Regions from separate parts of the Homo sapiens genome. Here region 2 is linked to region 1. Evidence: fine-mapped expression QTL. Tissue or cell type: whole blood. Region 1 holds a variant in brackets; the other region holds the start of a gene. All regions are shown on one strand. Distances are between the middles of the regions.

Region 1 (8,151 bases):
TTGTTGCCTGTGATTCCCTCACTTTATGCTTGTGTGGGTTTTTTTTAGAGACCTGGTCTTGCTCTGTTGCCTGGGCTGGAGTACAGTGGTGCGATCATAGCTCACTGCATCCTGGAACTTCTGGGCCCAAGTGATCCTCCTGCCTCAGCCTCCCAAGTAGTTAGGACTACAGATGCATGCCACCATGGCTGGCTAATTTCGAAAAATTTTTTTTGTAGAGGCAGGTTCTCACTATGTTTCCTAGGCTGGTCTTGAACTCCTGGGCTCAAGCGATTTTCCCACCACAGCCTCCCAAAGTGCTGGGATACAGGTGTGAGCCACCATGCCTGGCCCTGTGTGTATTTATTTTTACATAACATAATAAAAATCTGTGGAGTCAGCAATCTGACACAAGAACTGGAACATTGATAACCTGTTTTCCCCAATGAATTCCTTTACCATCCCATCTCCTGCCTTCCTTCACCTGAGGTAATGTCTATCCTGATTCTTCCAGAACATTAAAAAAAAAAAAAAACAGCTTTGTTGAGATGTAATTCACATACCACACTATTCAGTCATTTATAGTTTACAATTCAGTGGCTTTCAGTGCATTCACAGAGTTGTGTAACTGTTGCCACAATGGATTTTAGACTATTTTCATCATCCCCAAAAGAAACCATTAGCATCAGTACTCATTAGCAGTCACTCTCCCATCTGCTCTGCCTTCCCTCTAATCCCCAGCCCTAGGCCACCATTAATCTGCTTCTGTATCCATGGATTTGTCTCTTCTGGACAGTTCATGTAAAGAGAATCATACAACATGTGGCCTTTTGTGCCTGGCTTCTTTCACTTAGCATCATGATTTCTAGGTTCATCTATGTTGTAGCATGTATCAGAACTTCCTTTTTATTGCCAAATAATATTCCATTATAGGCCAGATGTGGTGTCTCATGCCTACAATCCCAACACTTTGGGAAGTAGAGGTTGGAAGGATTGCTTGAGCCCAGGAGTTCGAGACGAGTCTGGGCAACATAGTGAGACCCCGTCTCTAAAAATAGAAAAATTAACTGGGCCTGGTGGTGTGTGCCTATAGTCCTAGTTACTTGGGAGACTGAGTCAGGAGGATCTCTTGAGCCTGGGAGTTCCAGGCTGCAGTGAGCCATGATCACACCACTGCACTCCAGCCTGGGTGACAGAGTGGAACTGTCTCAAAGAAAAAAATATATATATGGCCAGGTGTGGTGGCTCACATCTGTAATCCCAGCACTTTGGAAGGCTGAGGCAGGAGGATCATGAGGTCAGGAGATGGAAACCATCCTGGCTAACACGATGAAACCCATCTCTACTAAAAATACAAAAAATTAGCCGGGCGTGGTGGCACGGGCCTGTAGTCCCAGAAGGCTGAGGCAGGAGAATCGCTTGAACCTGGGAGGCAGAGGTTGCAATGAGCGGAGATTGTGCCACTGCACTCCAGCCTGGGCGACAGAGTGAGACTCGGTCTCAAAATAATAATAATAATAATAATAATAATAATACCTATTCTTAATGATACCTGAAGGCAGGATGAAGCCAACTCAGGTGTGGGTGTGGCTGTTGTAGGTACTGTCGTGTTACTCCACTCACCCTAACTGTGTCTAGCTCCAAAATACCTATTTGCCAACTGGCATGGTCCTCAAAGACATTCATAATGAGAAGAGAACAATAGGGACAAGGTAATTTCTTTTTTGATTCATCTAAATTTCCTGATTTTAAAAAAGTCAGGCCAGGGGCAGTGGCTCGCACCTGTAATCCCAGCACTTTTGGAGGCTGAGGCAGGCAGATCACCTGCGGTCAGGAGTTTGAGACCAGTCTGACCAACATGGAGAAACCCCGTCTCTACTAAAAATACAAAATTAACTGGAGGTGTTGGCGCATGCCTGTAATCCCAGCTACTCAGAAGGCTGAGGGAGGAGAATTACTTGAACCTGGGAGGCAGAGGTTGCAGTGAGCCAAGATAGCGCCATTGCACTCCAGCCTGGGCAACAAGAGCAAAACTCCATATCAAAAACAAAAACAAACAAACAAACAAAAAAAGCCAGTGGCTCATACCTATAATCCCAGCACTTTGGGAGGCTAGCTTGAGCCTAGGAGTTTGAGACCAGCCTGGGCAAAATATTGAGACCCACATCTCTACAATAAATAAAAAATTTACCAGTTGTGGTGGTGCACATTTGTGGTCCCAACCACTGGGGAGGCTGAGGTGGGAGGATCACTTGAGCCCAGGAGGTTGAGGCTGCAGTGAGCAGTGATCACCCCACTGCACTCCAGCCTGGGCAACAGAGCAAGACAGTGTCTCAAAAAAAAAAAAAAAAAAAGAAAAATCAGAGATTATGATAGTGTGTGCATTACAAGGTCTCTTTTCTTTTGTATGTGTGTGAGATGGCATCTCCCTCTGTTGCCCAGGCTGGAGTGCAGTGGCATCATCATAGCTCACTGCTACCTCAAACTCTGGGGCTCAAATGATCTTCCCACCTCAGCCTCCTGAGTAACTGAGACTACAGGTCCTTTCTTTTCACTAAATAATAAGAGATCTTTTAAAAAACAATATAGCTAGGCACGGTGGCTCACACCTGTAATCCCAACACTTTGGGAGGCCGAGGCGGGCAGATCACGAGGTCAAGAGATCGAGACCATCCTGGCCAACATGGTGAAACCATGTCTCTACTAAAAATACAAAAGTTAGCTGGTCTTGGTGATACGTACCTGTAGTCTCAGCTATTTGGGAGGCTGAGGCAGGAGAATCGCTTGAACCCAGGTGGTGGAGGTTGCAGTGAGCCGAGATTGTGCCATTGCACTCCAGCCTGGTGACAGAGCAAGACGCAGTCTCAAAAACAAAACTCAGAAACCAATATAATAGTATAAACTGCACAGCGGCTATTGAGTACTTGAAATGTGGCTAATATAGCTGGGCACAGTGGCACACATTGTAGTCCCAGCCACTTTTGAGGTTGAGGCAGGAGGATTGCTTGAGCCCAGGAGTTCAAGGCTGTAGTGCCCTATGATTGCACCTGTGAGTAGCCACTGTACTCCAGCCTAGGCAACAGCAAGACCCCTGTATCAAAACAAACAAAAGAAGTGTGGCTATTAGACATATTACAAATATTCCCAGAGGTGACTCAGAAGTTAATCATAGAAGTCAAACTTTGCTTATTGTTATGAGTCTCTAGGGAGTACTTCAACTCATTTGCATCTGTTTCCTCATCTTCAAAATGGGACAGTGTAATTCTGGACCTGGGACATAGTAAGGATTCAATGGGTGGCAGCTGTGACAAGAGCAACAACAAAAATATTGTGCGTCTTTCTTTTTTTTAATAATGGCACAAAAAGGCAAAACCATAGATACAGTAAACGGATGTGTGGTTGCCAGTGTTTGGCGGGGAGAGGGTTCAATAAGTGAGCACAGGGGGTTTTTTAGGGTGAAGAAATGTGGGTATATGACTGTGCATTGGTTGATATCCATTAAACTTAATAGCACAAAAAGTGAACCTTAATGCATGCAAAGTTAAAAAAATCACTTAGGACATTTAGATAATTCCAAAATGTCATGCAGAATATGACAAACATCTTCACCGTATTACAAATGTGTGAAATGACCTCATGAAGAGGATAGAGGAAAA[C/T]GTGCTGACCTAAGTAACTTTAGAAATGAGTGGGCCAGGCGTGGTGGCTCATGCCTTTAATCCCAGGACTTTGGGAGGCTGAGGCGGGAGGATCACTGGAGCCCAGGAGTTGGAGACAAGCCTAGGCAACATAGTGAGATCCCATCTCTACAAAAATTTTAAAAAATTAGATGGGTGTAGTGGCGCATGCCTGTAGTCCCAGCTACTTGGGAGGCTGAGGCAGGAGGATCACTTAAGACTGGGAAGTCAAGGCTGCTGTGAGCTGTGATGGCCCCGCTGCACTCCAGCACTCCAACCTGGGCAACAGAGTGAGGCTCTGTCTCAAAAAAAAAAAAAAAAGAAAAAGAAAAAAGAAACAAGTGGAGTCTGCTGGAACACTAAAGGCAAAAGAAAGTGTTCAGAAGAATGTACTCTACTTGATAAAGTTTCCCACAGGGGTATGGGTTAACAATTTTGATAATCCTACACATGTATACTGGACTTGAACAATTAAGTAAATGGATGGTGGATGTGGATGATGGGAACCAGGTTTCCCGTTATTGGAGTGGGAATTTAGAGATAAGCAAGCAGGAAGCAAGCCAAATGATCCCTGGATTCAAGTGGTAAATATAAACAGGAACTCATGTTTAGCTTAATATATATACAGATGGTTACAAATGGAAATATAGATATGTGTGTATATATATACACATTGGTATATACAGATATATTTCTTTGTTCTGTCAGTTGAGAAGGCTTAAAAGAAATGATACCCCAAGGCCAGGTGTGGTGGCTCACGCCTGTAATCCCAACACTTTGGGAGGCCAAGGCAGGAGGATGGCTTGAGGCCGGGAGTTGTATCAGTCTGGGCAACATGGCAAGACCTTATCTCTACAAAAAAAAAAATTGAAAATTAAAATTAGCTGAGTGTGGTGGCACACACCTGTGGTCCTAGCTACTCAGGAGGCTAAGGAGGGAGGATCACTTGAGCCCAGGAGGTCTAGGCTGCAGTTTTTATTGTCTTTAAATTCTCTTCAGATAATTTACCCCCGCATTGCCTACACAGCACACTGCAGAGTGCTGGGCAACTTGGTAATTAACCCTCTAATTGTGTAAACTGGAAGCTTCGTGAGGTTATGGCTTCATTACCATGGCTACGTGGCTGTAGCCATGAGTGTGCACTCCAGTGTGGGTGATGGAGTGAGACTCTGTCTCAAAAAGGAAGGGAGGGAGGGAGGGAGGGAGGAAGGAAATAAATGACACCCTAGTAGCAATGAGTGCACCTAGCGCCCAGTTCTTGGTTTCTAATAAATACCCTTCTCCGAAACAATCAAAGCTCTTGCGAAATGGCTGATTTGAGGACTGGGGCAGGAAATACGAAAGATGAGCCTGAGGCATCTTGTAGTGCCAGAAAGTAAGGAAGTGCTTGACGGCAACGAGAAAACCCCACAAAAATAGGGGTGTGTCAAAGGGAGACGGGAGCCAACCGAAAGAGCTCCCAAAAGCCAAAGCTGGAACAACTTGAGCAACAAAATCAAATAGTATTGGATTATAACCTAAAGTATTAAATAATTATCTGTGAATCCATACTGATATAAATAAATTACTGAATAAATGAGACAAATCTTCAGTGTAGAAAAATCCCAAATAATCTATGTAGCTATTCCAACCTTAAGGAGATAGAGCATAACTCCTCACTTAAGTGTGGCCCGAGCATAGTGACTTCCTTCCAAAGAGTACAGTATGAAAAGGGGCAAAAGAAGACTGACTTTCCAGTAGAGAAACCTGACGCAGCACCAACAGTGATGTCATGTTGCTATGTGAGAAACCGCCCCAGCCAAGAGGAGCCCAGAGAGACACGACAGCTAGTGCGATGAGGCATGCTGGATGGATCCTGGAGTAGAAAAAGATGGAGTAGAAAAAGAACGTTGGGTAAAAACGAAGGAAATCTGAATAAACTGTGAACTCTAATTAATAAATAATGTATCATTATTGGTTTATTAATTGGAACAAATATACCATGCGTCTGCAATACCATATGTGATGTTAATAGCAGAAACACCAGCCTGAGCAACATGGCGAGACTTCATCTCTATGAAAAATGCAAAAATCAGCTGGGCTTGGTGGCATGCCCCTGTAGTCTCTGCTACTTGGGAGGCTGAGGTGGGAGGATCGCCTGAGCCTGGGAGGCGGAGGTTGCAGTGAGCCGAGATCGCGCCACTGCACTCCAGCCTGGGTGAAAGAGCGGGACCCTGTCTCAATAATAATAATAATAATGAAAGAAACAGGGTGGGTGGCTGGGGTAGACGGGAACTTTATATTCACAATTTTTCTGTAAATCTAAAAGTGTTCTAAAAAATTGAAGTTTTTTTTTTGTAATGGCAAACGGGTTTTAAAAACACATTTGGTTTATTTAGACTCCAGAGTGTCAGAGCCATTTACGCAGCCCGCCTCAAAAACAGAATTTCTTCCATGGATTAAGAGAAATATTCATTTATCCTCCAGTTGTAATGTTCTGAACCAGGAATTAGATGGTTCAGTAAAAGTTGCCTACCAACTAATTAAGTCAATGTCTCATGAACTCTGCATCAAAAAACTCGGTATCTTTAATTTTGTATGCATTTGAAATACAAAGGAAAGATGACTAGTTCCTTGATCATTTTAAGTTAAATTAAAATACCTATAATGAAAGACATTCATATAGAGCAGACTATATCATCCCATTGCCTACATTTTCATTTCCTAAAATTGTTTTAGTAGAGAATGGTATATATTGTTGCGTAATTGAAACAGTTTTGCTCTCCTTAAATAAAATAGCAGCCAAAGATTATTCAGGGTGCAGCTGACAGAGGCCTTACTGCCAATTCCTTCTGATCTGGAGAATTCCTAAAAAAAAAAAAAAAAATATCGAGTCTTCTTGTTACACCGAAGAGAAGGAGGGCAGGGTCGAAGCGCATTGGTGGTGTCCCTGGGCCGAGGGCAGGGCTCTAAGTCACGGGACCTGCTGATTGGTGGACTCCCCAGAGCTGGGGGGCGGGGCCTCTGGCGATGGAGCTCGGAGTCCATTGGCTGCGAGGCTAGAGGATGGTGTAATGGACAGCATCGGCCTGTGCGGCCGGTTTCTATGGCAACGGAGGCTTGAAAGAGCCACTCAGATTTCGGCGCTCGCCCCCAACTCCCCTTTCCGGAGGGGGCAGGGCGGCCTGGATTTGGGGGCCGGCGGAGGAGGCGTGGGGGCTGGGAGTTAAGGAGACAGGGCTTTCCTTGGACCAAACCAACCCAGCAATGCCACATTGGAAGTGGGTTTGAGGAACCGGGCCTGCGTGCTCATTTGAAAAAAAATCAGCCAAACAGAAAGGTATGAAGAAGAAACACCTATAATTCCATCCTTCCCTGACTTCTCCACTCGTAACATTTTGAACAGCAAAGCTTGGCACAGAACTGGCACTCAATGGGAGGAAGAGAGGGAGGGAAGGAAGGAAGGGGAGAAGGGGAGGGAGGGTCGATGATGTGGACAACGTGGCGTGACACGAAGTGCCCGCCCCCTTGGGCTGAAAGTCACAGGCAGGCCCGCAGAGCTGACGGGATATAACAGACTTGGATTTGGGGGCTTGGAGGAGGAGGGGTGGGACAGCCAAAGGCTCCTTGATTCCATCCCGGGATTTGGGAGGCCTGACTGCAGAAAGACTCCTCTCCGGCTTCACACCCCGCCAGCCCTGCCACTTGCAGCCGCCAGTGCTTCCAGTCTCCAGATCCCTGTGTCTTTGTGTTTGGGGAATAATAAACAGTGCCTGCTTCATCGAGTTGGTGTCAGAACTGAGTTAATGCATGGAAAGTTCTTAATACAATGCCTGAAACGTAGTAAACGTGCAATCAACCAGCTATTATCACAATTGAAGACGGTGGGATTTGACTAGGTGGAGAGAATGGGGAGGTTATTGGCTGTGGGTAAGGAGGCAGGAGGGAGCAGCCGTGTTGAAACCCTGCAAAGAGAGCAGTTTGGAGATCATACAGGAAGTCATAGGAGACGACAGCCAGAGGGCATTCTTCTCAAGCCCTTGACATGGATTATTTTATTTCATTTTCTCACCAGCCCTGATAATGTAGTTATTACCATAGACCCATTTTCCTGCTCAGGAAACTGAAGTTCAGAGAGGTTATGTAGCTTGTCTATGCAAAGAAATGACAGAACCAAATGGGCATTTGTGGGGCTCAGAACAAGAGTAGAGTTGGAGGCCCATATACCATATGTCTCTATAGTTAGAAATTATACAACAGTCCAGCAAGTGTTAAATGAAATATGTTCTGTTTTCTTCCTTGATGGATATATCCTCTAACAACCTGGAAGGCCATGTTCAAATTAGAATTCTAAGACCCTTGGAGTTATGTGCCAGAATGTGTAGGCCCAAGGAGACCTGTCCCCTGGAACCTGTATCCATCCCTTATCCAGCTACCTCTCATCCCATCAGTGATGGAGCTAGCATGCATGGGTCAACACCTAGCTGTCACCTGCAAACAGCTATCTTGAGGCCCAAGG
Region 2 (8,151 bases), 68 kb before region 1:
GTTGATGCCGCTGTCCAGTAACCCCTGTTCTGGGGTGAGGGAAGAGGCAAAAGAACATGCTGCATGTTCCCCAAGAACACGGTGGAGAATGAGCGTGACTGCAAAAAAAAGTGAAAAGTTAAAAAAAAAAAAAAAATAGGCCGGGCGTGGTGGCTCACACCTGTAATCCCAGCACTTTGGGAGGCCGAGGCAGGCAGGTCACCTGAGGTCAGGAGTTTGAGACCAGCCTGACCAACATGGTGAAACCCCGTCTCTACTAAAACTACAAAAATTAGCCGGGCGTGGTGGCACACGCCTGTAATCCCAGCTACTCAGGAGTCTGAGGCAGGAGAGTTGCTTGAACCCAGGAGGCAAAGGTTGCGGTGAGCTGAGATAGTGTCATTGCACTCCGGCCTGGGCGACAAGAGTGAAACTCCGTCTCAAAAATAAATAAATAAATAAAAATAAGGTGAGGTTAGTAGAGGCCCTATTGTGAAGGGCTCTACGAGCATCATATGGCAGAGGTGGTTAGTGGTCCCCAGTTTCAGGTCTCCCCTCCTTACATAGGATTAGAACCTGAGATTTTCAGCTGAGCACAAGGACACCTAGAATAAACTGCATTTCCTGTCTCCCTTGTATCCTTGTATCAGCATATGGCTAGTAGGACACAAGTGGAAGTGTTGTGTACAATGCCCAGGACAGTGTTCTTAAAGGGAGGGCCCAACTTCCTCATTTCCTCCTTTCCTGTATGCTGGAATGTGGACCTAACTGCTGGAGCTCCAGCATCTACCTTGGCTTCAGAAGTACCACATACAGTAGAGCAAGAGAGGAGCCTAGGTCCCTGACACATGGAGTTGTCAGGCCAGACCTCCAGGTTTTTTACACAGGAGAGAAATAAACATCTATTGAAGGCTGGGCGCAGTGGCTCATGCCTGTAATCCCAGCACTTTGGGAGGCCGAGGCAGGCAGATCACAAGGTCAGGAGATCGAGACCATCTTGGCCAACATGGTGAAACCCCATCTCTACTAAACATACAAAAATTAGGTGGGCATGGTGGTGCATGCCTGTAGTCCCAGCTACTCGGGAGGCTGAGGCAGGAGAATCACTTGAGCCTGGGAGGCAGAGGTTGTAGTGAGCTGAGATCTCGCCACTGCACTCCAGCCTGGGGACAGAGCAAGACTCTGTCTCAAAAAAAGAGAAAAAGAAGAAAAAAACGTCTATTTCATTTTAGCTATTAAGTGGCTGTTTCTATATTACAGCTGAGCCTAATCCTAATTAACACACAATAGGATTTGGAATTATCCAAAGGCAGTGGGGAGCCACTGAAGGATTTCAGCAGGGGAACATCATGCTTTTAGGGTGGATTTGAAAGTACAAGACGGGGCAGTGAGACTAGCTAGGAGGCCCACACAAGCACGAGTCCAGGCAGGAGAAGGTGACCTGGACTAGGGGGTGCTAGATGGAGACGCGAAGTTAAGGGCTCATAGGAGGAAGATCAAGAGGACTCAGTGGCAGACTGGATGGACTGGATGGATTGGATGTGAGGGGTGAAGGAGAGGGTGGAATCGAGGTGAGGTCCAGCCTTTGGCTCCTGCAATGAGGAGGGATGATGGCTTCATGTCCTGAGCTGGGGGAGAAGCCTGTATTTTGGGGACTGTGGAAGAAAACTGTTAAGTATTTCAGACCCTTATGTCTTGGCAGTGTCATGAAAAGTGGGTTTATACTGTGGAATAGTGGCAGTGCAGCCACTAACAATGAAGACAGTGCTAGTGGGAGGATAAAAGGTACCACCTCTGAGGAGTGCATTTTGACAATATCAAAATGAAAAACAGGCTGGGTGCAGTGCTTCATGCCTGTAATCCCAGTACTTTGGGAGGCTGAAGCAGGAAGATCACTTGAGCCCAGGAGTTCAAGACCAGCCTAGGCAACGTAGCGAGACCCTGTCCCTAAGAAAAAAAAAATTATCTGGTCATGATGGCACACAGCTGTAGTCCCAGCCATGCAGGAGGTTGAAGTAGGGGAATCACTTGAGCCCAGAAGGTAAAGGCTTCAGTGAGCCATGGTCAGGAACTCTAGCCTGTGCAACAAAGTGAGACTGTCTCAAAACAAAGCAAAACAAAACAAAACAAAAACAACGATGAAAAGCGTGTGAGCTTTGATTCAGCAATTAATCCCATTGCTAAGAATTTATTCTGTAGAGGTGTGTGTGTGTAAGCATGCAAATACACAGTTATTCCTGCAGCCCTTTTGACAGAAATAATTGGCTGTCTATAATTACAGGGCTGGTTACATAAATTATACTTCATCCACACAACGGAACAATGTGCAGCCATTTAAAAGGTTGAGGATGCTCTTTATAGGGTAATTGGAAGGATCTCCAGAGTGAACTGTTAAGTGAAAGGAAAGCCACCATTCACGCAGCTGTGTGACTGTGTGTGTGGTGGCTGAAGGAGAGGGCAGTAGGGCATGGTCAGGGCAGACGGGTTCTCTCTAGAACCCATCTGCCCACCCACTTAAACTCCATTCCAAGGAGGTGCATGCCCAGGTATGGGCATTGGTGCGAGAGACCTCAGCCTGGTTAAAGACCTTCCCAACAGTTCAAGGCAGGATTAACAAGGCAACATGAGTCAGTTACCAGACAGAGGCCCACCTCTCCAAGTACGCTGCTCCCAAATGGAAGAGCTGCCTTGGAAGGGAAGGCCTCCCCACATGAGTGAAAGGTCATGACTTTGGCTTGGTAAGAATGCAGTAAGGAGTGGCTGTAGTCAGATATTCCTGGGTTCTAATCCTGTCTCAAACCCTTTCTAGCTGGGGGGTACCCCTGGTCAAGTTCCTCAAGCTTTCTGAGCCTCAGTTCCTGTAAAGTGGGAACAGGATGCAAAGCTTACAGGTTTTTCGTGATGATGAAATGAAAACACAAATGAAGCATGTAGAGCTTATGGACCTGTTGCCAGGTAGGTGTCAGGAAATGGTCATTATTAGCACTCATCCTGTTATTCTTCACAGCAAGATGCATAAGTACCATCCTTGGGAGTCTTAGAAAGCTCCCCAGGTTCGAGGCTGGGATGACACTCCTTACATCTCAAGGCTGTTCTGAGTCACGCAGGATGATACCTGGCTGTGCACATGCTTTGTGCCCTGTGCAGCAGGAGACTGCCTGGAGTCCCTCTGGCCTGTGCCACATCAGTAGTCCAGGCTGCCTTGGCCCCGGCCATCCCTCAGAGCCTGTTGGGGCCTGGGATAAGCTCCACCCAGATGGGGACAGATGCGGTAACTGAGTCTATACATCTTGGGCAAGGCATTTTGCAGACCACACTGCAGAATAGAATCTGTGATGTGGAATGAAAGCAGCCCCTAATATCTACCTCTTGCTGTTCCCTGCCACACTCGGGACCCAGGGAAATGAGGGCGGGTTACATCAAGCGCAAGCGCGCGCGCGCACGCACACACACACACACACACACACACACAGCCCTCCCAGCTGTCACACCCATGGTCTACCCGAGCAAGGCCGCACCCCCACCCCGCCCCGCCCCCCGCAGCCAGGCCCCTCCCGTGGGAGCCCAAGCGAAAGGCGGCGGGTGTCCGAGTCAGAAGTTTCAGCGGAAATTGAAGCGCGGCCCTGGGACAGGAGGGGGGTGAGGCAGAGGGAAGGAGGTGGCTGTCGTCCCCCGCCCTCCCCGGTCTGCAGGCACAGCACACACCGCAGACACGCGCGCACCGTCCACCTGCAAACCCGGAGCCGCGCACTGGGGAGAACCAGCGGCCCTGCCGGGCCAGAGATCGCGCGCTGCGCCCCCGCTCCCACTCCCTCGGCTCCCCCGCTCCAGGGCACCCCAGCCCTGTCCCGGCGGTGTCCCCTGCACCGCCAACCCCTGCCACCAAGTGCCCAGCCCTCCAGACAGCTCTCACCATCTCCTGAGACACAGGTGCTCGGGACCCACCCTCACCCAGGACTCTCCCCTGCGGGTTCACGAGGACCCCCTCGGATCCCCCGCCACCCCCAGAGTCCTCCAGTGCCCCCCACAAGCCCCTCACCGCACCACACGACTCCCCTATCCCGCACTCACGCAAAACAGACCCCCGCACGCCCTCCTCTAGGGGTGACGGCCGGACACCTCCGTCCCTGGCTTCCCCAGCCCAACTCGGGCGACCCCACGCTCCGCGGGGCCGCGTCACCTGAAGCCCGGGGGGAGCACTCAGCCCAGGCCCGGATCAAAAGGGATCTGACCTGGCCGCGCCCCGACGGCGGGGTCTGTGAAAAGGTGTGTAAGGGGCGTGCGTGCGTGTAACACGCGGCAACACGCAGACGCCCAGAGGCTTCCGGCGCCCCCTTCCCCGGCCGCCCCCTCCCGCCCCCCGGCCTCCGGGCGAGTCCGCAGGCCGCACCCCGCCGAGTACCTCGCCCCGTCGTTCCGCGTGGGCCCGGGCGCCGCCGGGGCTCAGAGCCTCCAGGGCACCAGCAGGTGGGCCGGCCCGCTGCGCTGCTGCCGAGCTCGGGATCCCAGCCCAGCTCCAGCCCTGCCCGGGTCCTAGCAGCGGACGCGCGCGGAGCCGCCTCCACTTCCGCTGCGAGTCTCGTGCGCGCCCGGCCCCCGGTCCGGGTGATGCAAACCGGAGCTAATCCCCCGGTCCGGGTGATGCAAACCGGAGCTAATCCCCCGGTCCGGGTGATGCAAACCGGAGCTAATCAGCCGCCGTCTGATGCCCTCGGGCCCGGGATCGCACCATCCCCCGCGCCGCGCCCGGGCCTCTCTCCTCTGCATCCGCTGCACCTGGGACCCGCCCTCGCTGGCCCCCTAGGGGCGTCTGGTCAGTGCAGACATCAGCCACGGACTCTCCCTATCACCTTGGAAAAAAAATTTGCTCTTTTTTTTTTTTTTTTTGAGACAGAGTCTTGCTCTGTCGCCCAGGCTGGAGGGCGGTGGCGCGATCTCGGCTCACTGCAAGCTCCGCCTCCCGGGTTCACGCCATTCTCCTGCCTCAGCCTCCCGAGTAGCTGGGACTACAGGCGCCCGCACCACGCCCGGCTAATTTTTTGTATTTTTAGTAGAGACGGGGTTTCACCTTGTTAGCCAGGATGGTCTCGATCTCCTGACCTCGTGATCCACCCGCCTCGGCCTCCCAAAGTGCTGGGATTACAGGCGTGAGCCACCGCGCCCGGCCAAAAATTTGCTCTTCTGAGCCTCGGTTTCCCCACCTATGAAATGGGAAGAACATTCCTCCTTCTCAGGATGGTGCTTAAAAGAGCAAACAGTGACTGTTGTCGGGGTGCTTCCCCTTTTTTATAAAGCACATTCCCAGCACTGCCTTATAAAACCTTTAGGAGAAGTGGACATGCGGGAATCTCCATTCTCCACATTCTACTGAGAGCCAGCCTGAGGCCCAGCTATGGGCAAGTGGTTCAGAAGCTTCAGGAAGGCCTATGGACTTAAGAGCTGACTCTGGGCTCAAAGGAACCACCGTGGCGCCCTTGGGAGGCCTAAGGTCTGCTGAGCTTCCCCGCGTCCCTTTGCTAGAGGCAGTGCGGCCTAGTGGTGAAGAGCCCCTAGAGCCAGCTGGCCTAAGAGTGCACTCCACCTCCGCTCCAACCCACAGTGCTACCCCAGAAAAGCTACCTAAAACCCTGCCTCAACTTCCTGCTCCATAAAATGGGCTCATAATTGCGCTCACTTCATAAAGTTGTTGTGAGGATTAAATAATTTAATATGTGTAAGACGCTTAGAACAGTGTGTGGCACATTGCGGATGCTCAGTGGAGTGTAAACAATGGAGACAGAGAGGGAAAGAGGCCTTTAATATGCTTGCACCCAAGGCCTGGGAGGGCTTGGTGCTACTTGATTTGGGGTGAAACACCCCTCTGCGTCCTAGGCGTCCAGCACCTTTCTTTTTTTTTCTTTTTTTGAGGCAGAGTTTCACTCGTTGCCCAGGATTGAGTGCGATGGCACGATCTCGGCTCACTGCAACCTCCACCTCCCGGGTTCAAGCGATTCTCCTGCCTCAGCCTCCCAAGTAGCTGGGATTACAGGCATGCGCTACTATGCCTGGCTAATTTTGTATTTTTAGTAGAGACAGGGTTTCTCCATGTTGGTCAGGCTGGTCTCGAACTCCTGACCTCAGATAATCCACCTGCCTCGGCCTCCCAAAGTGCTGAGATTACAGGCATGAGCCACCGCGCCCGGCCTGGGTCCAGCACCTTTCTTAGAAATCCCTTTTGATCTGAATTCACCAGTGTCAAAAAATAACTCCTCAGCTGGGTGAGCTGGCTCATGTCTGTAATCCTAGCACTTTGGGAGGCCAAGACGGGAGGATTGCTTGAGGCCAGGAGTTTGAGAACAGCCTGGATGACATAGTAAGACCCTGTCTTTACAAAGAGAAAAAGATAGCGGGCATGGTGGTACGAGCTTGTGGTCCCAGCTACTTAGGAAGCTGAGGTAGGAGGATCACTTGAGCCCAGGAGTTCAGGTTACAGTGAAACGTGATTGTGCCACTGCACTCCAGGTTGGGTGACAGAGTGAGATCCTGTGTAATAAATAAATAAGTAAGTAAGTAAAATAACTCCTCTAGAGGCTGGGCGTGGTGGCTTATGCCTGTAATCCCAGCACTTTGGGAGGCTGAGGCAGGTGGATCACGAGGTCGGGAGATCAAGACCATCCTGGCTAACACGGTGAAACCCGTTTCTACTAAAAGTACAAAAAATTACTAAAAATACAAAAAACACACCTGTAGTCCCAGCTACTCGGGAGGCTGAGGCAGGAGAATCGCTTGAACCCAGGAGGCAGGAGTTGCAATGAGCTGAGATTGCGCCATTGCACTCCAGCCTGGGCGACAGAGCAAGACTCCGTCTCAAAAAAAAAAAAAAAGTAAAATAAAATAAAATAACTCCTCTAGGCAGAGGCTGGATGGGAGGCAGGGTGGAGTCATATTTGTTTTCCTGTTTCCAAATCCCTGGGGACCAGCTCACCTGTGTCCCAGAGCCTTCAGGGTATACCAGGGCATTCTGGGATCTCATTTAATCCTGGCAACTCCCCTGCTGGGGAGGGGTGAATAAACTCATCCTCTATCCTGGGACACCGAAATGGTTAGGAAGATCCCACAGCTGTGAGGGGTGAAGAAAGGTGGGAGGGCTGTTTCCTGAGCACCCCTCTGAAGGTGTGCTGGGTTTGCTTGTACATTCCCAACTAACGTTGTTTTGTGCTGTGTCAGCCCCTGTTCTAAATGCTGGGGACTCAGCAGTGACCAGAATGATCCACCCCTGCTCTTACAAATCTTATAAATCAGTGGAGAGATAGACCATTATCAGGAAAATAAAATTAAAACCATGATCATTTAAAATAGATTGCATCATGCATTTTCTTGAATAAAATAGGAAAGACTTGTTCTCCGTCATGACTGAGGGTGGCCATTTTCAGCAGGGCTTATCAGAAAGGTGATGTTTAAACTAAAAGCTGAGGGAAGAGAAGGGGTGAAGAGTGCAAAGATGTGAAAGGGAGACAGAGAAAAACAGTAAGTCACCTCCATTCTGCAGACAAGAAGAGTTAAGGTAAGGGACCTACCCAAGACCACCCAGCTGGTCGTATAAGACTGATTTCAGGCTGGGCGCGGTGGCTCACGCCTGTAATCCCAACACTTTGGGAGGCTGAGGCAGGCGGATCACCTGAAGTCAGGAGATGGAGACCAGCCTGGCTAAGGTGGTGAAACCCGGTTTCTGCTAAGAATACAAAAATTTAGCCGGGCGTGATGGCATGTACCTGTAATCCCAGCTACTCGGGAGGCTGAGACAGGAGAATCGCTTGAACCCAGGAGGCGGAGGTTGCAGTGAGCCAATTGCGCCACTGCATTCCAGCTTGGGCAACAAGAGTGAAACTGCATCTCAAAAAAAAAAAAAAAACAAAAAGACTGATTTCAGATTTGAACTTGGGGCAGCTGACTCCAGTGCCCATGCCATCCTGGGATATTTCACGAGCTTTGTATCCCTGCAGCCTCCACATGGACCTATGGGTATCGTGACAGGAACGGCACCCTGGGTATGGCCCCCAAATTTTGGTGACTTGTCACAGCTGGGTTTGTCAAATCCCAATTCTCTAGACCATTCTGTGTTCCAATAGAAATATAATGTGAGGCTGGGCGCAGTGGCTCATGCCTGTAATCCCAGCACTTTGGGAGGCGGAG

The links. PIP is the estimated chance that this variant, and not a neighbour inherited with it, causes the effect.
Region 2: it holds the start of TRIB3, and the variant in region 1 is fine-mapped to the expression of TRIB3 in whole blood (INTERVAL, PIP above 0.99).

The regions. Positions count from the first base shown.
Region 1 is chr20:309,088-317,238 of GRCh38, reverse strand. No RefSeq gene overlaps it. Among named protein-coding and RNA genes, the nearest start is that of NRSN2-AS1, 12 kb to the left of the region's middle. RefSeq lists enhancers at 6,671-6,750, 7,500-7,559. The variant C/T (reference allele first, on the strand shown) is at 3,636.
Region 2 is chr20:377,400-385,550 of GRCh38, reverse strand. It overlaps TRIB3 (tribbles pseudokinase 3), which reads right to left and starts at 4,791. Exons shown (of 4, transcript NM_021158.5): 1 at 4,382-4,791. RefSeq lists an enhancer at 2,674-3,672 and silencers at 3,358-3,947, 4,218-4,327, 4,348-4,507.